Linked DNA regions of Homo sapiens. The protein of the gene in region 2 interacts with the protein of the main gene of each other region in a pairwise test. Each region holds a gene or a part of one and is shown on either strand. Other genes may lie near its edges.

What was found.
Region 1: the proteins of PPP1R16B (region 2) and TASOR2 interact in binary tests that used the Homo sapiens proteins (3 or more experiments, as listed by UniProt).

What each region holds. Positions count from the first base shown.
Region 1 is NC_000010.11:5,743,826-5,750,861, reverse strand, and holds part of TASOR2 (protein TASOR 2), read right to left. Parts: intron 4,684-7,036; coding exon 835-4,683; intron 1-834.
Region 2 is NC_000020.11:38,913,675-38,920,710, reverse strand, and holds part of PPP1R16B (protein phosphatase 1 regulatory inhibitor subunit 16B isoform 1 precursor), read right to left. Parts: intron 2,555-7,036; coding exon 2,045-2,554; 3' UTR 1-2,044. UniProt on the Homo sapiens protein: Regulator of protein phosphatase 1 (PP1) that acts as a positive regulator of pulmonary endothelial cell (EC) barrier function. Involved in the regulation of the PI3K/AKT signaling pathway, angiogenesis and endothelial cell proliferation.

The sequences.
Region 1 (7,036 bases), on a different chromosome or scaffold from region 2:
TAATGGAGATGGTCACTTTAATTAATATTATATGAACTTCCTGATGCACAGGGTTGTTCTGTGGTTAAAAAGATGAGGATCCTTGAACTCAGGTAATACACATTTAAGTATCAAGAGGTAATGGGACACTGTGTGTGCAACACATTTGCAAATGGTTCAGAAATGTTAATATTGGGGTATCTGGGTAAAGGGTACTATTTCTGCAACCTTTATGTAAATTTGAAATTAAAAACAATTAAATTTTTAAAAATACTGTCTATGCCCGAAATAGAAGAGAAATAAATTCTGGGAGGATAAAACAATGAAGTTAATGGTGAATCAAGACAGGTTCAATCAAGACAGGCTCCGCCCATGCCAGAATTTCACCATGGTTCCATTACTTAAATTTAAGGACTATGTACTCCATGTACTCACCGTAACATCAGTTATCCTAACATTCAAATTCAAATTAAAAATATATCCAAAACCAAAAGAGGTCCTACTTGACCACCCACACTAACGGACAATCTACAACCACTTTTCAAAAAATCTGTATTTTAACATCGGAATGTGTTTGTATTTACACTTGAAGTATGGGCATGTCTACACTGGTAACTTTTTGTGAAAAAAAATTAGTCATTGCCCTAATTCTGGAACATAATACTAATTTTCAAATATAGTACAAATGGCAGATCCTGCAGGAAAACATTTAGTATGCAGATAAAGACTAAGCTGTGAAATTTAAATACTATGTCATACCATGATTTCTTTTTGATGGCTAATATGCTAAATTTATTATTTCTAAAACTAAAATCAGCAATTAAAATAATACGTAAGACGTGGCTGGCACTTTACCTTTGTTCTTACAAAGAATGATTTGTCTTCTGTTTCGACAAGGTAGAACAGGAAGGTACTTTTACAAGCCTCTTTCACAACACTTCTTAGTTTGACGTGCAAATTGGTGCACACGTCTATGATTATGTCTTCATAGGAGGCTGACCGTCCTGGGAAAGGCAGATACATCTCTTGAGCAGTGGCTTCTCCAGAAACATCATTTAGCTCTTTGTCTTGGAAAATGAATTGGTTGCTATTCTTCATCACCTTGTTGAATTCAGCATACTCATTGAGAATAAGTGAAATATCATTCCGAGATTCCTTCACAGTACTGTTGTATTTCAGTTTGTTGAGGTGGAATGAAACAGTGTGATTTCTTTGAGAATTTCTAAGATCTCTATTATGACTACATCTCTCTCTCCAAGAGGAAGAGCTGTCCAGACTGCTGGCTGTGTAGCCTCTCCTGGGCTGCCCCTGTGGTCTGGGATCTGACTCCACAACTGTTACCAGAAGGGGGCTTCTGCTCCTAGGTGCAGGATGCAGAAATGGGGCCTCAGAGATTTTTGTCGAAGGGAAAGCACCAATGGAGATCTGGGTTGGTGACTCCTTTGGAAAGACATTGGCAGAGGAGGCAGAATGCTGAGAATCCCCATTCTTTATGGTCTGTTTTAGTTTATGTGCAAAACGCAGATACTCCAGGTCTAAAGTGTTCTGGGTGAGGTCGTCTGCCACCTGCCAAGTGCTTGTCCAGGAGCTGGGCAGGCCACAGTTTGCACTGAAACTCGGGTGCCTCCTCAGGCCGTGTGAAGTTCTCATGGTATCTTTGAGTTCTTTTGTTATAGAGAAGTTGGCGTAAGTCCTGAGGATCCCGTGGAGATCTCGGATTTGGACGTAAGGCGGCACACACTTCTCTTCTTTCTTTACCGCAGCAGTCCAGTGCCCGGGAGGGAGGCTCGTCTCCATGCCTGGAACCCAGCTAGAGCAGCCCCAGTCCTCTTGGTTGTTGTTGTGGAAGTTCAACGACGACTCATAGCCATCTGTGGGAACATCTTTTTTCCTGGTGTAACTACCTCTTAAAGTATAAGAATCCTCCAAATCCAGTCTGGGATTTCTACAATCACCAAGCAGGTCTAGATCAGAATCTCCAGAGAGTTCATAGTGCATGTCGGAATTCACACCGACCTCTCCATCTCTGCCTAGGGTTTCAGAACCAGCCTCAGCCCTGAGCCCCTCCCCACTGTTCTCAATTTCTACGTGCTCTGTGGCTATTCCACAAACAGAAGTATCAAAGGATTCTGAAACAAAGGAGGCCAAAGGCTCTTTACTGAGGTTTTCCTTGGTGTCTGCTGTATTTTGGTAGGGACCAGCACAAAGGGAGGAAACCCCGACATTCAATAGCTCCTTTGTTTCACATGTTGACACATCTTGCAGCGTGTGGATGGCTTTGCGTTCACCTTTTAGAGAAGATGTGGTGTTGGACTGAGGGCCAGCAGTGCCTGGACCTGTGGTTTCTTTATGTAACTCAGCTTCAGGCTCACCATTCTTAAGCAAACTGGCCATTCTGCCTGCTGGTATTTCCTGTGCTTGAAACACTGGCTCTGCATTTATTGGTCTTACATAATGGGTTAATGTAGCATTGTCTGAGGAAGAACAAAGCGTGGGGACCACTGAGCACATGCATCCCTGTGTAGAATAAGCTCCATCAACCGAGGCAGCTGTCAAGGACTTCACCTGCAGATAAATGCCTTCATCTGTTTTCAAATCACCGGGAAAGAGATGGTTCTGACTGCTTTTAGGGCTAGTCTGCTGTTTTACTGACACATTCACTATACCACTTGGTGCAGTTGTGGAAACCAATGTGTCAGACAAAGACTTATTTTCAATAACATTTCTAGGACCAAATGGAGGTTCACTGGACTCCAAGACAAGATGTTTTAAGTCCAAATTTCTATTCTCTATACTAACTGGCTGCAATGGATTTCCTGATTTTACCAGTTTTTCAGGAGAAGGACTGAAGTCACCTGTGCATTTGGCAGCTGAGGCAGGCTGGTTTAACTCCCTACCATAGCACTGCACCTTTCCTGAGAAAGATAAACCCTCATCATGCTCACTTGAGACAATTTCCTCAGTTACTTTACCAGGAAGGGTTGGTCTACCTGTTCTTCCTGGATGATCAGTTAATATTAGAGGCATTTCGGCAGAGACCTGCATTTGTTGTACCTGGGTAAAGTTATCTTGCCCCACTGGATGGGTAGGACCAACAAAAACATTTTCTTTTTCTGTTATGCCTAAGTCTTCTGACTCACATTGGGAGATTTGGTTGCTCTTCTCACACTGTGTACCATGAAGTTTTAAAATGCATGGAGTCACAGCCTGATATGGTCGTGTCTCTTTAACTGGTACTGGAGGTTCAGGACTAGACGCTGGTGATACTTCTTCAATTACAGAATCAAAGGGAAAATCAGAGGTCACATTAATTTCCTCTGCAATCTCAAGGGTGCAATTTTCTTTAGAAAGTATTAAAGTAACTGGTTGTAAATTATCCCCCTTTCTCTCCTTATTTTCTACTGGTTCTTCTGACACTGAGGGATATACTGACACATTGTCAGCAGAACTCACTTCTCTGCTTTCTGTGAGAGCCACCTCTTCCGGTTCACCTATTTCCTCAGCTACATCCTGAAGTTCTAAATTTGAGAATGGGGCCTCCTCAAATTGCTCTATTTCACCAGCTGGCATTTCTTCTCTGGGACTTGTAGGTGGTGATATTGTTAGAGCTAAGTCAATGTCAGAATCTTCCTCTGATAACTCTAGGCTGACCTCTCTACTCACAGACAGGCTTGTTTGTTTGATAAATACTGAATCAAACGCTTCCAAATTCATATTTTCAGTGTTTGGACCATTCTTGTGATTCTTCCTTAGTTCTAAAGAGTCACCTGATGTGTGGCATCCTGACGAAATGCAGTTAAGTGAACACTGCCTTCCCAAGGTGGTAGAGGCTGATGATGAGTCCACTTCAACCTGTGTCAGTTCTAGAAGCCCTTCTGAAGATAGGCCGAGGAGACTCTGAGTCTGTGAAAGGAAATCCTGAGTGCATCTCACTTCTTCACTGGGTGATAGATGACTAGAACTTTTAGCTAATGATAGTGCCTCCATGACCATTGTTTTATCAGATGGTAGAGAGACTGGAAGGGGCGTCTCCTTCTGTAATGAACACACTGCTTTATCAAGTGTCTCTCCACCTACTGACGAGGCACAAAGGTACTTAGTGCCCTTCTGTCCTGCAACTACTAGAGAGGGAATGTCCCTCAGGCCTTGTGTTCGTGCATTTTCCGAGGTGGATACAGGATGTCTAAGGCTTGCAGCAGGTGATACTTGCTTAATCAACTCCTTCTTAAAGGTTGTACGTTCATCAGCAGTATTTACACCTTCTGTCTGTATTGGTACATGTGCATTTTTTTCAAAGGTGAGAGTAATTGGTTCCGGGTTAATCACTGCACACCCCATATTATCATCCTTTCTTTCCAAGGAAGGGTGACATTCATTGTTTATGGGGCTGCCATGTTGGATAAGGTCCTGTAAAGTACCTGTTTTTGTTTGCACTGCTGCATCAAGAATATCCACTTTGTTTTCAAGGGTGCCGTACACAGAGCTCTGACATATCACTGGCTGACTGCCAGGCCCATCGTAAGTCCTGGTGAATGTGGCTTGAGTAACAGTGCCACTGTAAGAAGCCACTCTTGTGCTATCCAGTGGCTGAACAATTTCTTCTTCACTAGGAACAGAAGGTCCATTAGTTTGTGTACTTCCAATACCCGAAAGCACAAGATTAGAAGTCTCCAATGATTCTTGTTTAGCTTCTTCCCCAGTTACCTGAAACGGCCAAAGTAAAAAAAAAAAAAAATCAGTCATATAAAATGTTTTTTATACGATTATATGTACATGTGAAGAACAGAAAAGATAAAAATTAATTTTAGTTTGTGAATGTTCTTCTGAATTTTCTAGCTAAAAGAATATCACAGGGTACAAATCAAGCAAGTCCCTCTTTTAAAGGCAGACTTAAAATACCCCCCAGTGGGATTTGTTTTCTTTAAAACCACACACAGAAGAGAGCTCCAAGCTTTTTGGAAGAAAAATAACTAGACCACTGACAATTTAAAAGACTTTAAATGCAGCCTGTTTGCTACTTAGCACCGCTTAATCCAGAAGTGTAGCACTAGAGAAAAAGCATTCAATTTTGTTTTTAATAAATGAGATTAATTTTTTTTTTTTCAAGACAGCGTCTTGCTTTATCGAACAGGCTGCAGTGCAGTGGAGTGATCTTGGCTCACTGCAACCTCTGCCTCCCGGGTTTAAGTGACTCTCTGCCTCAGCCTCCCGAGTAGCTGGGATTACAGGTACATGCCACCATGCCCGGCTAATTTTTGTATTTTTAGTAGAGATGAGGTTTAGCCACGTTGGCCAGGCTGGTCTCAAACTCCTGACCTCAAGTGATCCACCCACCTCGGCCTCCCAAAGTGCTGGGATTACAGGTGTGAGCCACTGTGCCCAGCCTAAAAGATAATTTTTAAAAAGCAAATAACATTTTTAACATCCGTTTTCAATTAGACCATAAGTACACCATCATCTGAAACTTTCCCATGAGGCAACAGAGTAAATTAATTACTACCCCCTGTACTCAGAATACATTGATTCTAGTCAACAAAGGCCCCTCATCCCTTAGCTATCTTCTTTGCATGAAACTGGAGATTCTTTCTCATTTGAATACCTATTGTACATGGCAATTGAAAACTTTATCAATGCAGTTTGCAATCATAAACTGAACTAAAGGCACTGATTTAAACAGTAGCAAGCAGGATTTAGGTTAAACATTAGCAGAGCTATCATCTCAGGACAGTTCTCATAACCTCATAAACAGGGTGGTATTTGTTTTTTGTTTTATTTAAAGCCTCAAGCATGGCCTTGTCGAGCATATAATAAAATGAACTGATTATACAACTGATCACACCCCTCTGCAATGCTGGGAACACCATGCTCACAAACTGCGTGCCATGTCTTGAAGCATACATGTTGGAAATCAGGAACTGTGTTCCAAATCTCTTGTTAAAAACATTTCTGTCTTAGGTAGGGCACGGCTTCTCACGCCTGTAATCTCAGAACTTTGGGAGGCTGTGGTGGGCGGATCACTATAGGCCAGAAGTTCGAGACCAGCCTGGCCAACATGGCGAAACCTAGTCTCTACTAAAAATACAAAAATTACCCAGGAGTGGTGGCATGCACCTGTAATCCCAGCTACTCGGGAGGCTGAGGCAGAGTCACTTGAACCCGGGAGGCGGAGGCTGCAGTCTCAAAAAAACCAAACCAAACAAACTCATTTCTGGCTGGAGCAGTGGCTCACGAGACTCTGTCTCAAACAAAACAAAACAAACAAACCAACCAACCATTTCTGGCTGGGGGCAGTGGCTCACGCCTGTAATCCCCAGCACTTTGGGAGGCTGAGGCAGGTGGATTGCCTAAGGTTAGGAGTTATAGACCAGCTTGGCCAACATGGTGAAACCCTGTCTCTACTAAAAATACAAAAATCAGCCAGGTGTGGTGGCAGGCGCCTATAATCCCAGCTACTAGGGAGGCTGAGGCAGGAGAATCAGTTGAACCAGGGAGGTGAAGCTTGCAGTGAGCCGAGATCGTGCCATTGTACTCCAGCCTGGGAGACAAGAGTGAGACTTCTCAAAACAAAACAAAACAAAACAAAACAAAAAAACAGAGTCAACAGTGTGGGGCTGAGACAACAGAGTTTTAAGAGAACAAAGTATTAGAAAAGTCTTGAGAGTCAGTGTCCTTCTGAGAACTTTAATGGCCCTCCCAATCATGTGGCTGGTAACGTTTAGCCTCAGTCCTAAATCTCACCATGACTGTAGTCTTAGTGAAATGCAAATAGTGACAATCTTGATATATTTCTATTTCGATATATTTTTACTACAGGTAAAGTGTAATGCTTCTAAAATAAAGTCTGACAATTCAGAAAGAGTGCTCAACTCAACACATGACTAGCAGCAACATGCTTTTGGTTTCTAGTGCCTATCATGCTAGAATCCTCTTCTTCACATTCCAGTGTGCCAACTGGTGGAGGGAGTGCGATAGCACACGTGTGCCTTTCAAGTACAGGCACAGCATTCAACAAGATGACAAAAAAACAAAAGCCTACGTAAGTACATACTAAGGAGAT
Region 2 (7,036 bases):
CCTGGCATTGGGGTGGAGGTGGCCTGATGCTGAGAACCTCTCCCCTTCCAGCAGCCACCAAGGGTGCAGTCACTCCCATGGGCCCTCTACTTTCTGGTCCAGCCAGCTGCCCTGCTCCTGGGAAAGCATCACTCAGGCTCCCTGAAGTCCAGCTCCCTCTCTGGGTTATGGGGCTATGGGGGCCACAGTAGGGGGCTAAGAATGACAAAGAGCAGATCCCATGACCAAAGTTGTGGCACAAGGCGGGGATGGTCTTCCAGTCCCAAGCCCCTAGCCCAGGTGCCCCTCAGGGCAAGTTTCTCATAGACTGAGAAAGAAGAGGGTTAAAAAGAACCCAGATCTGTTCCCCAAATTAAAATCTGGAACTAGGAGACCCCTTCAGAGCTCTAAGGAGGTAGTTTAAGGACAAATAAAAGGCGCACAGAGCAAGGGATAACCTGCAGCTTATCGGGTACACCAAGAGGTTCTGGCTGAGCCTGTGGGCAGTGCCCATGCCATGGGCATCTCCAAAGGGGGTCCTGGGAGACTCAGCAGTGAGGGGAGAACAGCCATTCACAGTCCTCCCTCCCCAGCACCAGGAAGGCTGGGACTATGAAACTGCAGGGCTGGGCAAGACCCAACTCTAGCCCTACCATGGCTCTCCTGAATGCAGGAGGGGATATTGACCACGTGCACCCTGGATTCGCAGACTTGGGGCATCACCACTCCTGCAAGTGCAGGCTGGGAGCCCCTGGGTGAGGCGGGAACTCAAAAGGGCTGACTGGCAAATCTGTCTCACCAAGCATCCCCAAAAAGGCAAAAGCTGGGCCCGGGATCCCGAGCACTGACTCTGCACACATGACTGATGGAGGTGGAAGGGGGTGGGAGGTGGAGGCAGGCTGGCCCCTAATTGCTTGCTCTGACAGCTCAGTCTAAGGAGGGTTGGCTGAGATGGGCTGGGCTGAAACAGTCTGGATATTCACAAAGACCCCAGGGTGCTGGGCTCTGTCGCTGTTAACTAGCGACTGTTTTTTTTAAATTAACTGGCCTCTCTCCCTGGAAAAGCATTCCAATGGAAGCTCCTCACTTAGCTTCATTTTCCCAGCACCAGCCAGTAAAACCCAGTGACCTTGATACGATCCACAAAAAGAAGTGAATTCAGTTACCTCCCTCCCTCTAGGAGTTTTACAGACTAAAGGAATTTTTAAAATCAGATACACTTTGGTAAATACTGACCTTGTCCCCCTCCCACACCCTTCTGCCTTTGACACTTCCATCCAAGAGGAAAACATGATTTGGTTGATTCCAGGAACGAAATTGCCTGGTTTTCCCCCTCCACCCCTGGATGGTCACACAGCTGGCTCCTGGCATGGGCAGAAGTGTGGCTCTCAACAAGGCTGCGGGGAGCAGGTCTGTGTCTATCTCATCTACCCATGTAGATTCCTGGCTCCCTCTGAACACAGCGAGGACTTCTCACCCCTGTCAGGTGTGGCTGGTGGCTCAGACTTTGGGATAACTCTGAGCAGGACTATGGGTCTCAGCTTAGCAGGTCCCCTCCCCTGCTAAAACCACATTGGCAGTGGTAATGAGACTCTGAGTCTTAACTTCCATCCTTTTGGGAATACCCCACAAATTCTAAGCCCCCTTGCTTCCCCTGAGCCCAGGTATGTCATTCCTACACACACTGATCGAGCTTGTGTGTGTGTGTATATGTGTGTGTGTGTGTGTGTTAATGTGACATGCATGTACTGATCCGGAGAAGCCTTTATACCAAGAATAGAGCTGGGATCTCAAGCCCACCCTCCCAAGATCAGACAGCAGAGTGAACCAGGAGGCCACGACAGGCCTTGTGTCAGATGGCAGACGATGCAGCAGGAAGCAGAACCACGGGACGTGGGACATGGGATGCTATGGGCAGCCAGCTGAGGGCTGGGGTCTGAGTTCCTCTGAAAAGCAGAGCCCACCTCTCCCCAGCTGCCCTGACACCTCCCCAGCCAGGGCTGTTGGGCTGGCCTGGATTCCAGGAGCCCCTCCCCAGGCATCTCCCTCCTCCATCACACGGAGACTAGGAGATACGGCAACAGCCATGCACCTTCTCCTCCATCTCCTCTATGGGGGCCTTGAACTTTAAGAGTGGGGGATCTCCGCTGGTGACCGTGTAATATACCGAGGTCCCATTGCTGCTGTACGGTGAAGTTCTGCCTCCGATCAAGGGGGCCTTGCCTTCACTGCTACTCTCGCCCGTCCTGGCCATGCTGCTGCCCAGGTGTGTGCTAAGGAAGGGGTGGCTGAGCAGCTTGGCTGCAGCCCGCTGCCGCTTCAGCTCCAGAAGCGTCTGAGGGCTCTGTTCCTTGTAGCTGCTCCAGGGCGGGGTGGCGTCGGCCACGCCAGGGTTGCCATAGGCCATGCTGTAGTCAGGCACCTCATGCACCTTCCAGACATCCCCGTTGGCCAGCGCATACTGGTAGGCACTGACCGGAGCCCGGAGGCCATTCTCAACAGGCATGTCCAGTTCACCTCGTGGGATCTTGGTAGGAAATTCGGAGAGTAGCACGGGCTTCTCCAGCCTGGGGTTCTGCGAGTGAGAAGGACAACATTACCAGCTGGCTGGAAGATCTGAACCTACTATCCACCTGTCTCTCTGCTGAGGGCATTATTGTTTGGACTTTTCCTCTATCTGTTTTCTCTCCCTGGGTATCGGGGCCAGGGTTTTCCTTTGGGGAACCCCCAATCTATGAATTTCCGTACAGTTGACCGACCCCTGGCCTTGCTCCAGGGCCTGGATCATGACCCAAGGCCTAGCTAGTCAACATATTTCACTACAGGGATTGGCCCAGGGATGAGTTCTTAACTGAAATTGCTTCAGTGAAGCAACCCTGGGACTTTTGCTAGAACAACTGGGAAAGAGAAGTTTCTGTAGGAACTGTGGGTAGTAAGAATGACGTAAGCTGAGGGCTGGGGAGATACTATGTTGAAGGGTCTGCTTGCAAGTAAAGTTGGCATGAAGAAAGGCTAAGAGAGACTGCATCCTGATGACCCATTTGAAGTCCAGGATCCTTCCAGGCTCAGACTTTTCAGTTGCACAAGCCAATAAATTCCTTGTGTGTAAGTCCATTTGAGTTGGGTTTTTCAGTCACTTGTAATCCTTCCTCTGTATATGAAGCATATCTCACAAAGATTCTTACCCAGGGATCCTGTACACCTAATAATCCTTGGATAACAAGAGTTTGAAAAGTAGCTGCTTCCTAAAAACTATAAACTAAAAAATAGATACATGCAACAACATTTAAAGCACAGCAAAAATCACCATGAACAGGGAACAAGGTCAAAAGACACATGAAGAAACTAGGAAAATATTTTCAACATATATTACAGAAAAGAGACTAATTTTCTAAAAGTATAAAGAGCTCTTAAAAGTCCTTTTTTTTTTTTTTTTGAGACGGAGTCTTGCTCTGTCTCTCAGGCTGGAGTGCAGTGGCGCAATCTCTGCTCACCGCAACCTCTGCCTCCCGGGTTCAAGCAATTCTCCTGCCTCAGCCTCCCGAGTAGCTGGGATTACAGGCACGTACCACCACACCCAGCAAATTTTTGTATTTTTGTAGAGATGGGGTTTCACCATGCTGGCCAGGCTGATCTTGAACTCCTGGCCTCAAGTGATCCACACTCCTCAGCTTCCCAAAGTGCTGAGATTGCAGGCATGAGCCACCGCACCCAGCCAAAAGTCAATTTTTAAAAGCCTATCTACCCAATAAAAATAGTAGGCAGGGGATACTAATATGTAGCCCACAGCAAAATATATAGATATACATGGCATTGGAATAATATTCATCCCCACTAATCGTTAATACTATAAAAATTAAAACAACAAAATATCACTTTTGGATATCACACTGACAAATACGTTTAAAGTGTGTTATTACTCAGTGTTGGCAGGGGTATGGGGAAATAAGTGAGAATGTAAATTGCTACAGTCTCTTTGATGGACAGTTTTGCATCATCCTTCACTGAAATTTTTTTCTTTTTTTCCTTTCTTCTCTCCCCAGCTCTTCAGTAAAAAATAAAAACAATAATAATGATAAAAATTTTTAGAAAAGATTGTATACTTTGCACCAGCAAGCCCATTTCACAGATTTTCTCTCTCATTAGTGCAAAGCCTGAAAGTCATCATTGGGCAAGCAGGACACTGTGGCCAGTACTTCTATTGGCATGCTCTGTAGCTGGCAAAAAGAATGAAGGAATTCTCCACAAGCTGGCATGGAAAGATGTCCAAGATATATATATATAATCTAGTTTATAATCTAGTTTTCTAACATATATTTATATATAACATACATATATAAATATATATAAAACGTACATATATAACATATATGTACATATAACATATATATGTATTTATATATAACATACATATATAACATATATAACATATATATGTTATATATATATATGGTAATATGTGATAAGGCAAAGAACACTTTCCATAGTAAGTTTCCATTTATGAGTGTGTATTTCTTCGCTTTCTCCTTTTAGAGTCAGGGCCTCACTATGTTGCACAGGCTGGTCTTGAACTCCTGGTCTCAAATGATTCTCCCACCTCAGCCTCCCAAAGCACTGGGATTACAGGCATGAGCCACCGAGTCCAACCTTTTTTTTTTTTTTAATGGCTCCTTCTGAACTATGCAGGCAGACTGATGCCATGTCATGGAGAGACCGTTTCTTGGTGGTCCTAGTCAGTGCTTCTCAAACTTTGATGTGTATGTGAGTTGCCTAGGGATATTGTTAAAATCCATATTCTGATTCAATAGGTCTGGGTTGGGGCCTGCAATTTGGCACTTCTAAGAATTTCCTGCTGATGCTTAGAGTGGCAAAGATCTGAGACACTGATCCCATCTTGGATGCACATTGGCATCATCTAGACAGTTAAAAAAAAACATGTACAGGCCGAGCGTGGTGGCTCACGCTTATAATCCCAGCACTTTGGGAGGCTATGGTGGATGGATCACTTGAGGTCAGGAGTTCGAGACCGGCCTGGCCAACATGGTGAAACCTTGTGTCTACTAAAAGAAAAACACAAAAATTAGACAGGCGCAGTGACGCAGGCCTCTAATCCTAGCTACTCAGGAGGCTGAGGCAGGATAATTGTTTGAACCAGGAGGCAGAGGTTGCAGTGAGCCAAGATTGCACAACTGCACTCCAGCCTGGGCAATAAAGTGAGACTCCGTCTCAAAAAAAAACCATATAGAACACCAATCTGAAAGCATCACATATTATATAATTCCACGTATATAACATTTTGGAAAAGCAAGACTTATGAAAACAGTAGAAGATCAGTGATTGCTAGAGTTTGGGGAGGAAGCGTAAGTAGAATACCAGGGCTGTTTAGTGGGACAGCCCTGGTCTCTTTCACCAGTTGTTCACAATCTCAACTGTCTAATATAACCACCTAAACCAAGTGGCGAGAGCATTCTGTGTGACACTATCATGACGGACACATGACATTATGCATTTGTCAAAACCCACAGGAGTTACGACACAAAGAGCAAACCCGATGTAAACTATGGGCTTTAGTTCATAATAATGTATCAATATTGGCTCATCAGTGATAACATATGTACCACACTAATGCTAGTTGTTAATAACAGGGGAAACCAGGGTGGAGGGGGGTGTATATGGGAAATATCTGTACTTTCCACTCATTTTTCTAGAGTTCTAAAACTGCTCGGAAAAAAAAAATCTATTAGTTTAAAAAGAAAAAAATCCCTGCTGGGTGCAGTGGCTCATGCCTGTAATCCCAGCACTTTGGTAGGCTGAGGTGGGAGGATGGCTTCAGCCTAAGAGTTGGAGACCAGCCTGGGCAACATAGTGAGACCTCATCACTACCCAAATATTTAAAAATTAGCTGGGCATGGTGGTGCGTGCCTGTGGCTCAGCTACATGGGAGGCTGGGCAGGAGGATCACTTGAGCCCAGGAGGGTGAGGCTGCAGTGAGCCATGTTTGTACCATTGCAGTCTAACCTGAGTGACCCTGTCAGAATGAGACCCTGTCTCAACAAAAGAAAACAAAACCCACCTATATCCATCTCCAGTGTCAGAAATCAGAGCATTGAAGGAAGAGGAATTAACTCCAGCCTGAAGGATGTGGGTTAGACGAAAGAGGTTTTCTCATGATGCAGGGAACTTCTAAATGTACTTATCTGCCTAATGCTTAATGAGGTACAAATTATGGGCTGAGTTCTATACAAATAAGAACACAATTGACCCTAGAACACCCTTTGTGGTAGGCACCATCATCTTGGCAATGTTGAACTGAGATACTGGACAACAGGAAGGTTAAACAAAACCCCCACATTTTGTGTTCTGGGGAATGGCTGACTGCACAGAATCACCCTTCCCCATAGGATTTCCAGAACGCTCAGACGACCCCTCCTTTTCCTAGGACAACCCAAACACAGTCCCCCAAATTCTCATTCTTTTCCTCTGAAATGATTAAACTGTCAATTTATCAACCGAAATTAAATGCTTGCTAAATGATTTTTTTTTTTTTTTGAGATAGAGTCTCACTCTGTTGCCCAGGCTGGAGTGCAGTGGTGCAATCTTGGCTCACTCCAACCTCTGCCTCCCAGGTTCAAGTGATTCTCCTGCCTCAGCCTCCCAAGTAGCTGGCATTACAGGCACCTGCCACCACGCCTGGCTATTTTTAGTAGAGACAGGGTTTCGCCATGTTGGCCAGGCTGGTCTCAAACTCCTGACCTCAGATGATCCGCCTGCCTGGGCCTCTCAAAGTGCTGGGATTACAGGCGTGAGCCACTGCGCCCAGCGGTAAATGATTTAACCAAATTTTAGTTAAGCTGCTCCCCTCCCCACAGGATCCTGGACTTTGACTCACCCTGAGGGTAAACAAGCACTGCAATGCAGAAAAACTCTCCTGAAGACCGTTCTGGAAATGGGCTGACCACCAGACACACATTCCTGGTCAACTGTCCAATTACACCACCTGCTCATCCCACCCCCAACCCTCAGTCCTTGCAGCCTCTGTCTTCCTCCCTAGGAAACG